Linked DNA regions of Homo sapiens. The protein of the gene in region 3 purifies or fractionates together with the protein of the main gene of each other region. This does not show direct contact. Each region holds a gene or a part of one and is shown on either strand. Other genes may lie near its edges.

Region 1 (3,500 bases), on a different chromosome or scaffold from region 3:
CATCTCTACTAAAAATACAAAAAGTAGCCAGGCCTGGTGGTGGGCACCTGTAATCCCAGCTACTCGGGAGGCTGAGGCAGGAGAATGGCTTGAACCCGAGAGGCAGAGATTGCGGTGAGCTGAGGTGGTGCCATTGCACTCCAGCCTGGGTGACAAGAGTGAAACTCGGTCAAAAAAAAAAAAAAGGCTGGGTGCGGTGGCTCACGCCTGTAATGCCAGCACCCAGCACTTTGGGAGGCTGAGGCGGGTGAATCACTTGAGGTCAGGAGTTCAGGACCAGCATGGCCAACGGGTGGTGAAACTCCATCTCTACTAAAAATACAAAAATCAGCCAGGTGTGGTGGTGGGTGCTTGTAATCCCAGGTACTCGGGAGACTGAAGCACAGGAATCGCTTGAACCCAAGAGGCGGAGGTTGCAGTGGGCCAAGACTGTGCCATTGCACTACAGCCTGGGTGACAAGAGCAAAACTCCGTCTCAAAAAAAAAAAAAAAAAGAAAGAAAGAAATAAAACACTGTTTCATAACAGCCTTCTCCAAATCTCCAAATAGTTTTTAACTGAGCAAGGATTCACATCCAGTTGATTTCCACTTCACACAAAAATGACATATTTAGGAAGTTTCCTCTTATGTGACCAGATATTGGACTATCACTTACCCTTTTGAGGCTTATGTTGTCATGTTCATAATTCAGCCGATAGAGAAAAAACCGAGAAACTGTAGAATAGGCTATCCAACTTCCACATGGGGAGATACAGCTACAGATAATGTTCTCAGGACCCTGGCAATATCAGGAATCAAGATGAATGTGCAATTAAACTTCACATAACAAGGTGCACTGGGACATGACGCCTCAAGCTCTTGCCACTCTGGACATACCCACAGATATCTACACATAATCTCGATCCTCGTGTGGTCTGCATTAATATGATTATTTCAGAGGCAGAGCACCTAAAAGGCATGGCTTTGATTTCCAAATCCAAGAATGGAGGTCTATTCTTATTTTGGCCCTTTGAATACTTCATAGATAGCCTCATACTAGACCCCAACTTCAGAAACCTGAGCAGGGAGGCATTTACTGAAGGAAAGCTCTGGAGGATAGGTGGTTTGAAGTACTTATTTTCTGTTTTGTGTACGGCGTTCTGCTTTAAAGACTTCTAAGAAATAGCAAATGAAGAACATTTGAAGGCCAGGTACAGTGGGTCATGCCTGTAATCCCAGCACTTTGGGAGGCTGAGGTGGAGGATTGCTTGAGCCCAGGAGTTCAAGACCTGTCTGGACAACATGGTGAAACCCTGACTCTACAAAAAATTAGCCGGGCATGGTGGTGCACACCTGTAGTCCCAGCTACCTGGGAGGGTGAAGTGGTAGGATCACCTGAGCCTGGGAGGTTGAGGCTGCAGTGAGCCGTGACCGTGCCACTGCTCTCCAGCCTGGATAACACAATGAGACCCTGCCTCAAAAAAGTAAGCAAACAAACAAAAAAACCAACCAACTAACCAAACAAAAAAGAATCTGGAGAATAAAGAAAAGTTGAATGTAACATGTATGTAGTTTTTAAAAACTCACAAAATGATTTTTTTTTCATTGTATACCCTTTTGTACTATTTGAGTTTTTAAAAATATGCACATGGCTGGGCGCGGTGGCTCACGCCTATAATCCCAGCACTTTGGGAGGCCAAGGCGGGCGGATCACCTGAGGTCGGGAGTTCAAGACCAGCCTGACCAACCCCATCTCTACTAAAAATACAAAAAATTAGCCGGGCGTGGTGGCGCATGCATGTAATCCCAGCTACTTGGGGGGCTAAAGCAGGAGAATCGCTTGAACCCAGGAGGCGGAGGTTTCGGTGAGCTGAGGTGGTGCCATTGCACTCCAGCTTGGGCAACAAGAGTGAAACTCCGTCTCAAAAATAAATAAATAAATAAATAAATAAATAAATAAATAAAAGCACATTATTTTCATAATAATATCAAAAGAAGAGAAACCTATTTCCTGTATACATCCATCTAATAAATCCTCAACGTCCTACTTATAATCACAGGAAACCCAGTCCTGGTGACACAGTCCTTCATTCAAATAGTTTTAGAATTTATACAATTTATGATGCAAACTAAGTAACCTCAAAATTCAGAATGGGAATTATGAGCCTAGAATTCAGGCTCTAGAATTCAGAGCCTAAACAAACTTCCTTACCTTTGTCTTTAGGTGCAGTAAATGATCTGCATTTTTAGAGAGTGGAAGAGTATCCCCATTCTTGCCTGAAACAAGAAACTTCCCTGAGATTTTTCTTATGAAAGAAAGAGTATTTGTACATTTTTCTTCTAAAAAGTTACTCCTTGGAAAAATGGAATCTCTATCAGTGGGAAATCAGAAAAATACAAGCTCACTGAGTAAGCTCACAATTTTTGAGGGGTATATGAAGAGAAAGCAGTGAGTACTTCTTTTGCTTCTATCCTCTGATACATCACTAATTCCCTGAAGCTCTAGTCCATAGCCAGGGACACAGGTGGAGTTTGTGTGGCCTCGATTTTAATCCACTGCAAATGAGAGGACTCAAACATTTCCTTAATAAGTCAAAAAGGCCACTAGGCTGTCACTCCAATAAGATCCATGTGATCTTCTTTTTCTACAGGATTATCATTACCCATCATTAAATCTTGTTGTTTTTCAACAGCCTGTTTTCACCTCAGTTAAGCTAGCGCAAACTACGATTCTTCAACCCTTACCTTGACTACACCCTGCAGCGCACCACCTAGAGCCATAAACTTTTAAGAGATGATCCAATATCCTGCTAAAGATTCTAATACTCTAAACAGCTTATTTGCTTTATCTAATGGGTGGGAAAACCATTAGTTAAAATGGACACAAAAGTCTACTTCAGTTTTTCTATAAGCAGAATTCCAACCGCAATTCTGATTTCTGGCTTCTCTCTCCAGTTTTCTTATTGAAAAAAACGTGCTCCCATCTTACCTGTTGCAACTGTGGATCCCAGTCGCCAAAGTTCTAAGTGATGAGCAAACTGGAAGAGGAGAAGCTGCCTCTTTTTAGAACAGGAGATGAGACATCGCTATATCCAAGAATCAAGAAGTTAAAAAAATAAGTCAGGGTCATCTACTGCCTTAGTACCAGATACAGTAGCACCACCTTAGCACATTTTTTACTGCTGAAATCCATTTCCTTGATAAATATTTCCTAAGTACTCCCATATGCCAGGCACTGCCCTGAGATCTATGAAGACGATGATGAATTAAAACATAGCTACTGCTCTCAACATGCTTCTAAAGGGGTGACACAGAATTAAATCAGCAATTAGACTTCAGTGTGCCAAGAATTTTAACACGGCTAAACACAGTATGTACTGAAAAATAAGGAGACAGGACATCTAACCTAGCTGTGTGGTGGTAAATACAGAAGCCCAGATGAGGTTCACTGGGAAAGACCAGTCAGGCGAAGGAGGCAGGGCAGAACATTCTGAGGAGGGTGATGGCATGTGACATAGCTC
Region 2 (3,106 bases), on a different chromosome or scaffold from region 3:
TCTGATGGTCATTTCCCACACCTATGCAGGCACAGGACACCACTTCTAAAGTCTCCTAAACAAGGTCCCTGAATAGCAAGCCAGACCAAGGACAAGTCTAGTGTGCCCGAGTGACACCTCCAGGAGTTTGAAGATAAGGCACATCACTCACTGTGACAGTTGGGGGATCTCATAGCCAGACTGGATATTGGAGATGCCAGCAGCTACTGCAGCAGTGACCATCAGCCTGGGCTTGTTGATCTGCTTGGCCTCCTGCTCAAAAGCTTCACGCATTTCCTACAGAATAATAAGGCATAATAGGACATCTATGATGCTGATTTTAGCTCCTTAAATAATACTAATAAACATATGTCTGTATAATGCTTCTCTCTCTTAAATTGCTTTCACATATTTTATTTTACTTTAGTCTCTCAACAACCAAATAAAGTAGATCGGATAGATAATATTATTGAATTTTCTGGCTATCTAATATGCATAAGAGTTAGGACACTTCACCAAAGTCCCACACTGAGTTAGTAGGTAGGTCATGACCAAAACCCAGGTCCCAGATGACCATCAGGGCTCCATTGTATCTCTATACTTTGAAGCTCTAGTTGCAGTGATACCCTACATCCAGCAGTATAGAAATTTGTTTCATAAAGTAGATGAACTACTTTATAGGACTGACATCCCATCAAATAAAATGGTGTATTGGCCAATAAGGAAGGTGGTAACAGCTAGATGATAGGTTCCCATTCAATACTAGAGATTAATCCACCTGTATCTGTGCGACTGTAATCTCATTTGGAGTACTGGGTTTAGTTCTTATAATTGCACTATTAGGGTGCGCCAGAGTATGTTCCAGTGAAGGCTGGCTCTGAAAATTGTCATGCGGTTATTGATTGAAGGCATTAAGATATTTAACTGGAATAAGAGAAATTATAGGCAAGGTATTTACAGCTGTCTTAAGACATTAAGCCCATATATTGCAAAAGATGCAGTCTTATTCTCTGTTGCTTCAGCAGGAAGAACTAGAAACAATGACCAGAAGTTATAAATTATGACTAGAGGCATGTTCCAGCCAAGAAAGAGATATTCCTTTATGATCATTAGGGCAATTCAACAAGTAAGTAAATTGACTTTTCACCTATTACTTAACATTGAAACTATTCAGAGGCTGGGTGACGATCTGTTACATAGAATGGAATAGCAAACAATCTGTCTTGGGAGACAGTAAGTCTAAAAACCAAGTATATCAAGCTTTTTTGTCCTGAACTCCAGATTGATATTTATCTGATGCCTACTGGGCACTCTGTTAGGATGCTCTACAGATACCTCATACTCATCAAGTTCAAGGTCAATTCTTCTTCTTTCAAATCTACACTTCTTCCTGTATTTACCATCTTAGTTAATAGCATTAAAATCAAACCCATCCTCAAAGTCAGAAAATTGGAGGTCCTCTCCATTTCCTATTTCCAGTTGATCTCCAAATCCTATTGATTCTATCCTCTTGATATCTCTTATATACATCCTCTTCTTCCCTCAGTGTTAGAGCCTTTGTTGGGGCCCTGATCATTTCTTGCTTGATTTACTGCAATAACCTCCTAATTCTATCCATGACTTCTCATCTCCTTCTAATTTATCCTCTATGGTAAAAGCCAGCTCTCTACTATTTAAAATTCTTCAAAACAGTCCCATTGTGTCAAAGGTAAAGTGCAAATTCCTGAACATAATATAAAAGTTCTCACATTATCTGGTTCTTCATGCAACTTCACAGCCATTATCACCCACTTGCTCACACTTATCTGTATATCATTTGTGCCATTCCCATCCTCACTTAATTGGTTAACACCAGTTTCTTTCAAGACTGAGCCCAAGCATCACTTTCTCTAGGAAACACTTTCTGATCCTGCCCCAGAGCAGAATTAGTTACCCTCTTTCCTTGTTACTTTTGTACTCTGCAGACCTCTAACATGGCATTTATCACAATGCATTGCCATTGTTCATATTCTTTCAGTCTTCCACCTCAGAAGAAGTTCTTCAAAGCCAAGGATAGTGTCTTATTCTTATATTTAGCCTGACAATGTCTGCCACAGAATATGTACTCAGTAATAACGGGCAGCCTAGTGTAATGCTTAGAAGCAATGGACTCTGTGGCCAAACTGCAGAGGAAGTTATGATTCCTACTAGTTGTGTGATCTTGGGCAAGTTGCTTAAATCCTCTCTGTACTTTAGTTTCCTCATCTGTAAAATAAAGATTATAACACTTATAGTATGTATGCCATAGAGTAAATATGAAGATGAAATGAGTTATGGTTCTTAAAACAACATGTAGAGCAGTGCCTGGCACAGAGCTCACATGTTGCTTTGTTGTTGCCATTAAATGTTTGTTTAATGAACGCACGATATATAAGACTCTTTGCAATGCTAATATTCTATCAGTTTAAATTCAAGTTTTGTTTTACCCTAGAGCCACCCAATTCTCCTCGGAAAGAAAGACTTTGAATCTTTTTGGGCTAAAGACTGGGACTTCCTTCCCCACCTGCACCAGGACAGTGAAGAGATGCTTGTCCTGAGGAGGGCTCCCACGAGAGCCAGGGTACTCCCAGTCAAAGTCCAGCCCGTCAAACTCATACTGGCGCAGGAATTTGATGACTGAGGTGATGAAAGTCTGGCGGTTCTCAGGAGTAGAAACCATGGCAGTGAAACTGAGGGAGACCCAAAGAAGGCAGGGTGAGACCTTGGTGGTCCCAACACCTTGGAGTAAAATCAAGCTCTCAATTCCTGCCTCAGAGCCCTTCATCAGGACCCACAGCCCAGAGTAAAGCATGTTCTTGGTTTTCTCCTCTCCTTCCTTTGTAATCACTACTCTTCCCAGCCATGGTATCTTAACATTCCCTTTATTCTGTTATCCCCCCAACTCTGCTCTTTCTCCCAAGTTGCCCTTGTTTCTTTGGATACCTGGCAAACCCAGCACACTGTGTTCCCTCCCCAAACATGTACCCTCCAAGAAGTCCTCTTGTTTATTTGTGTGATTTTCTCATTCCTCCCCCCACCAGAAGATAAATAGAGGGAAGCATTATAACACTGTCCTCAGGGTTTGTACTCTTGAAATACTTTAAGAAGA
Region 3 (3,500 bases):
GAGTTTGAGAGATTCTCCTGCCTCAGCCTCCTGTGTAGTTGGGAGTACAGGCACCCGCCACCACGCCCGGCTAATTTTTGTATTTTTAGTAGAGACGGGGTTTCACCATGTTAGCCAGGATGATCTCGATCTCCTGACCTCGTGATCCACCCGCCTCAGCCTCCCAAAGTGCTGGGATTACAGGCGTGAGCCACTGCGCCCGGCTGTGTGTTATCTTCTACGCCAGTTTTTCTGATTCTCAGTTTATAGATGGGAAAGGAGACGCTTCCAGCAGCAGGAACTTGCTCAAGGTCACTCAGCAAGTAAGCCGGTGGAGCCAATTCAGACTCAAGTCTAACAGATTCGAAGCCCTAACTGTTCTCCTAGGCGGCCTCGCTGGGTCTCCCCAAACTCCGCAGCATTACAGCCCCACCCTCGGGCCCCCTTCCTGGAGGCCTGGTGGGGCGCAGGAGCAGGAAGAGAACAGGCCTCACCTGGGCCCGCTCACCTGTGAAGGGGTCCCAGACGTGCACAGCCCCGTCACAGCTCACCACGTGCTGCGGGGCCTCAAGCTGGCCCACGAAGAAGACGCTCTTGCGGTGCTGGGTGTAGACGAGGCGTGGGGCCGTCTCGCTGGTCCCGTCGCCGTAGTTGTACAGCGGCCAGAGGCGCACGGTACGATCCTTGCTGCCGCTCAGGAAGAAGTCCTCGCTGCTTAGGGGTGCCACGCACTTGACGGCCCCCGAGTGGCCCGGGAAGCTCTGCAGGCGGATCTGGTGGAAGTGAAAGTGGGCATCCTGCTGGCTCACGCCGATCTCGTACTGCCAGTACGCCAGCCAGTTTCCGCTCAGCCCGTGCACGCTCCGCGGCAGCTCCTGCTTCAGGGCGTTGTCGTCGCTCCCGCTGCCCAGGCCCCCGCCACCCACCCCCGAGATGGGGCCCAGTGGTCCGGGGTTCTCAGGCCGAGAGTCATTGGGGATCTGAATGCGGTTCCCCACCAGGACGCTCCCAAAGGTCCCTGAGTGGCCGTCATCCTGAGGGCAGCCCCCACCATGGGGGTCCCACTCGGGCCCGGTGCCGGGCATGGTGGGCTCCACGCTGGCAGGGTTGCGACTGCTGGGGCTGATGCTCTCCAAGTACAGCGCCGCCAGCTCCCCAACCAGCTCGTGGTTGGGGATGATTTTCCGGATGATGTCACCTGGATAGGAGTGGGAGAGGTCCTGAGACAGGGAAGATGGCAGGCGGCTGCTATCACCCATCCAAGGACTCGGGAGCCACAGAAGATGGGGCAGGAACTGGCTCTGCAACTCTGGGCAAGTAACTCTGTCTCTGAGCCTCAGTTTCCTCCTCAGTGAAATGTGGATTCATTCCGTTGTGATGTACACATGAGCATCTTCTATATGTGCCGTGCCGTGCTGGGCACTAGGAATAGAATATGGAACAAGACAGGTGGTGCCCTGGCCTCCCAAGCTTAGATTTCAGTGGCAGGATGATAACAGGTGTAACCACAAGGCTGTCTGTCCTCTCCAGGGAGATGACACGCTGAAACGATCAGCACAGCACCGTGCAGGGCCCAGAGGGGAAGCTTCGTAAACAGGAGGCCACTCCTTCCCTCTCGCCAGCTCCTGCGGACCGCCAGTCCACCTCCCTGACTCTCCTGCCTTCCCCAGGGACACTACAGGCCAGCTTCTGGGCCTCTCTTGCTGGCTACTGCTCAGTCCTTGTTTGTGTGTCACCTTGGGGGTAGGGGTCTGAGGCCAAATCCCTTTGCTCTCACCCATCCTGCTGGCTCTTAGAACCCACTGCTGACTCTGGGGCAAGGGCAGAGAATGGGGCCTCCCAAGGGAGGAGACAGCCACGAAGACTGTGATGGGGAACGTGATGGGGCAGTACCCAACAGGCAGGAGAAGGGCACGTAGATTGTGTATGCCATCTCCAGGGTGAACACCTTCTGCAGCTCGTCCAGCAGGGCGGGGTCCACGGGCCGCTGCTGCCCATCAGAGAAGACCACCTGTGGCAGCTGGCCCTCACCACGGCCCGCAGGGTCCAGCTTCAGATCCTATGAGCAAGACACCCAGGGGGTCAGCCGGGTCCACAGCTCCCACCCTGGCCCACCCTGGTCCTCGCCACGGCCCGCGGAGTCCAGCTTCAGATCCTATGAGCAAGATGCCCAGGGGGTCACCCAGGTCCACAGCCCCCGCCCCAGCCCGCCCTGGCCCAGCAGATCTGCCCACCTGTTGCCGAAGCTCATGCAGCTGAGAGAAGACCTGGAAAAAGGTGGCCACGGGCTCGCTCAGGTGCTGCTGGACCATCTCCTGTCCAATGCGCAGGCAGATGAGGGCGATGAGGCTGATGGTTTTCACACACAGGATGGTCCGAGCCTGGGCCCCACTTGGGAACCTGGAAACAGAGCTCATGAGCTCCAGCCCGCCGTTCTGCAGGACTTGACCAGAATCTAGCAAAATCTTTATTTATTTTTATTTTTATTGAGATGGAGTCTTGCTCTGTCATCCAGGCTGGAGTGCAGTGGTGCGATCTCGGCTCACTGCAACCTCTGCCTCCCGGGTTCAAGCGATTCTCCTGCCTCAGTCTCCCGAGTAGCTGGGACTACAGGCATGAGCCACCATACCCGGCTAATTTTTTTTGTATTTTTAGTAGAGACAGGGTTTTGCCATATTGGCCAGGCTGGTCTCGAACTCCTGACCTCAAGCGATCCACCCACCTTGGCCTCCCAAAGTGCTGGGATTACAGGCATGAGCCACAGCACCCAGCATATATATATACTTTTTTTTTTTTTTGAGACAGAGTCTTGCTCTGTCGCCTAGGCTGCAGTACAATGGCGTGATCTCAGCTCACTGCAACCTCCGCTTCCTGGGTTCAAGCAATTCTCCCGCCTCAGCCTCCTGAGAACCTGGGATTGCAGCCTCCCGAGAACCTGGGATTGCAGGCACCTGCTGCCATGCCCAGCGAAGATTTTGTATTTTTAGTGGAGACGGGGTTTCACCATGTTGGCCAGGTGGGTCTCAAACTCCTGACCTCGTGATCCACCCGCCTTGGCCCCCCAAAGTGCTGGGATTACAGGGGTGAGACACCACGCTCGGCCTTTATATATATTTTTAGAGAGGGGGTCTCATTTTGTTGCCCAGGCTGGTCTTGAACTCCTGGGCTCAAGCAATCTTCCCGCCTCAGCCTCTCAAAGTGCTGGGATTACAGGCATGAGCCACCGTGCCCGGACATATCAAAAGCTTTAAATGAAAGAGCTCCAAGACCAACTGGTCCAAACCAGATGAGGAAACTGAGGCACAGGAAAAGGGTGTGGTTTGCTCAGGGTCACACAGCCGGGATCAAAACCAGGACTCTTGACACCCAGTCCAGTGTTACGTCCTCTCCCCTGAGCTTCCCACCCCCTCCTGGGCAGCCCCTCCGCTGGGCCGGTCCCCCTACATCAGCTGGGGCAGAGGCCTACCCCGTGACGAGGGAGGTGAGGAAGCTGAGCACGGGCAGCAGGACCTCATGGCTGA

Evidence for each region.
Region 1: the proteins of WDR81 (region 3) and UTP4 purify together in Homo sapiens (tandem affinity purification; one study listed by IntAct). This does not show direct contact.
Region 2: the proteins of WDR81 (region 3) and CHIA purify together in Homo sapiens (co-immunoprecipitation; one large-scale study listed by IntAct). This does not show direct contact.

Annotation. Positions count from the first base shown.
Region 1 is NC_000016.10:69,153,149-69,156,648, reverse strand, and holds part of UTP4 (U3 small nucleolar RNA-associated protein 4 homolog), read right to left. Parts: intron 3,066-3,500; coding exon 2,969-3,065; intron 2,257-2,968; coding exon 2,192-2,256; intron 779-2,191; coding exon 656-778; intron 1-655. UniProt on the Homo sapiens protein: Ribosome biogenesis factor. Involved in nucleolar processing of pre-18S ribosomal RNA. Part of the small subunit (SSU) processome, first precursor of the small eukaryotic ribosomal subunit.
Region 2 is NC_000001.11:111,314,851-111,317,956, reverse strand, and holds part of CHIA (acidic mammalian chitinase isoform c precursor), read right to left. Parts: intron 2,688-3,106; coding exon 2,522-2,687; intron 2,252-2,521; exon of another isoform or gene 2,085-2,251; intron 277-2,084; coding exon 152-276; intron 1-151.
Region 3 is NC_000017.11:1,731,204-1,734,703, reverse strand, and holds part of WDR81 (WD repeat-containing protein 81), read right to left. Parts: coding exon 3,446-3,500; intron 2,380-3,445; coding exon 2,214-2,379; intron 2,039-2,213; coding exon 1,873-2,038; intron 1,178-1,872; coding exon 488-1,177; coding exon of another isoform or gene 474-487; intron 1-473. UniProt on the Homo sapiens protein: Functions as a negative regulator of the PI3 kinase/PI3K activity associated with endosomal membranes via BECN1, a core subunit of the PI3K complex.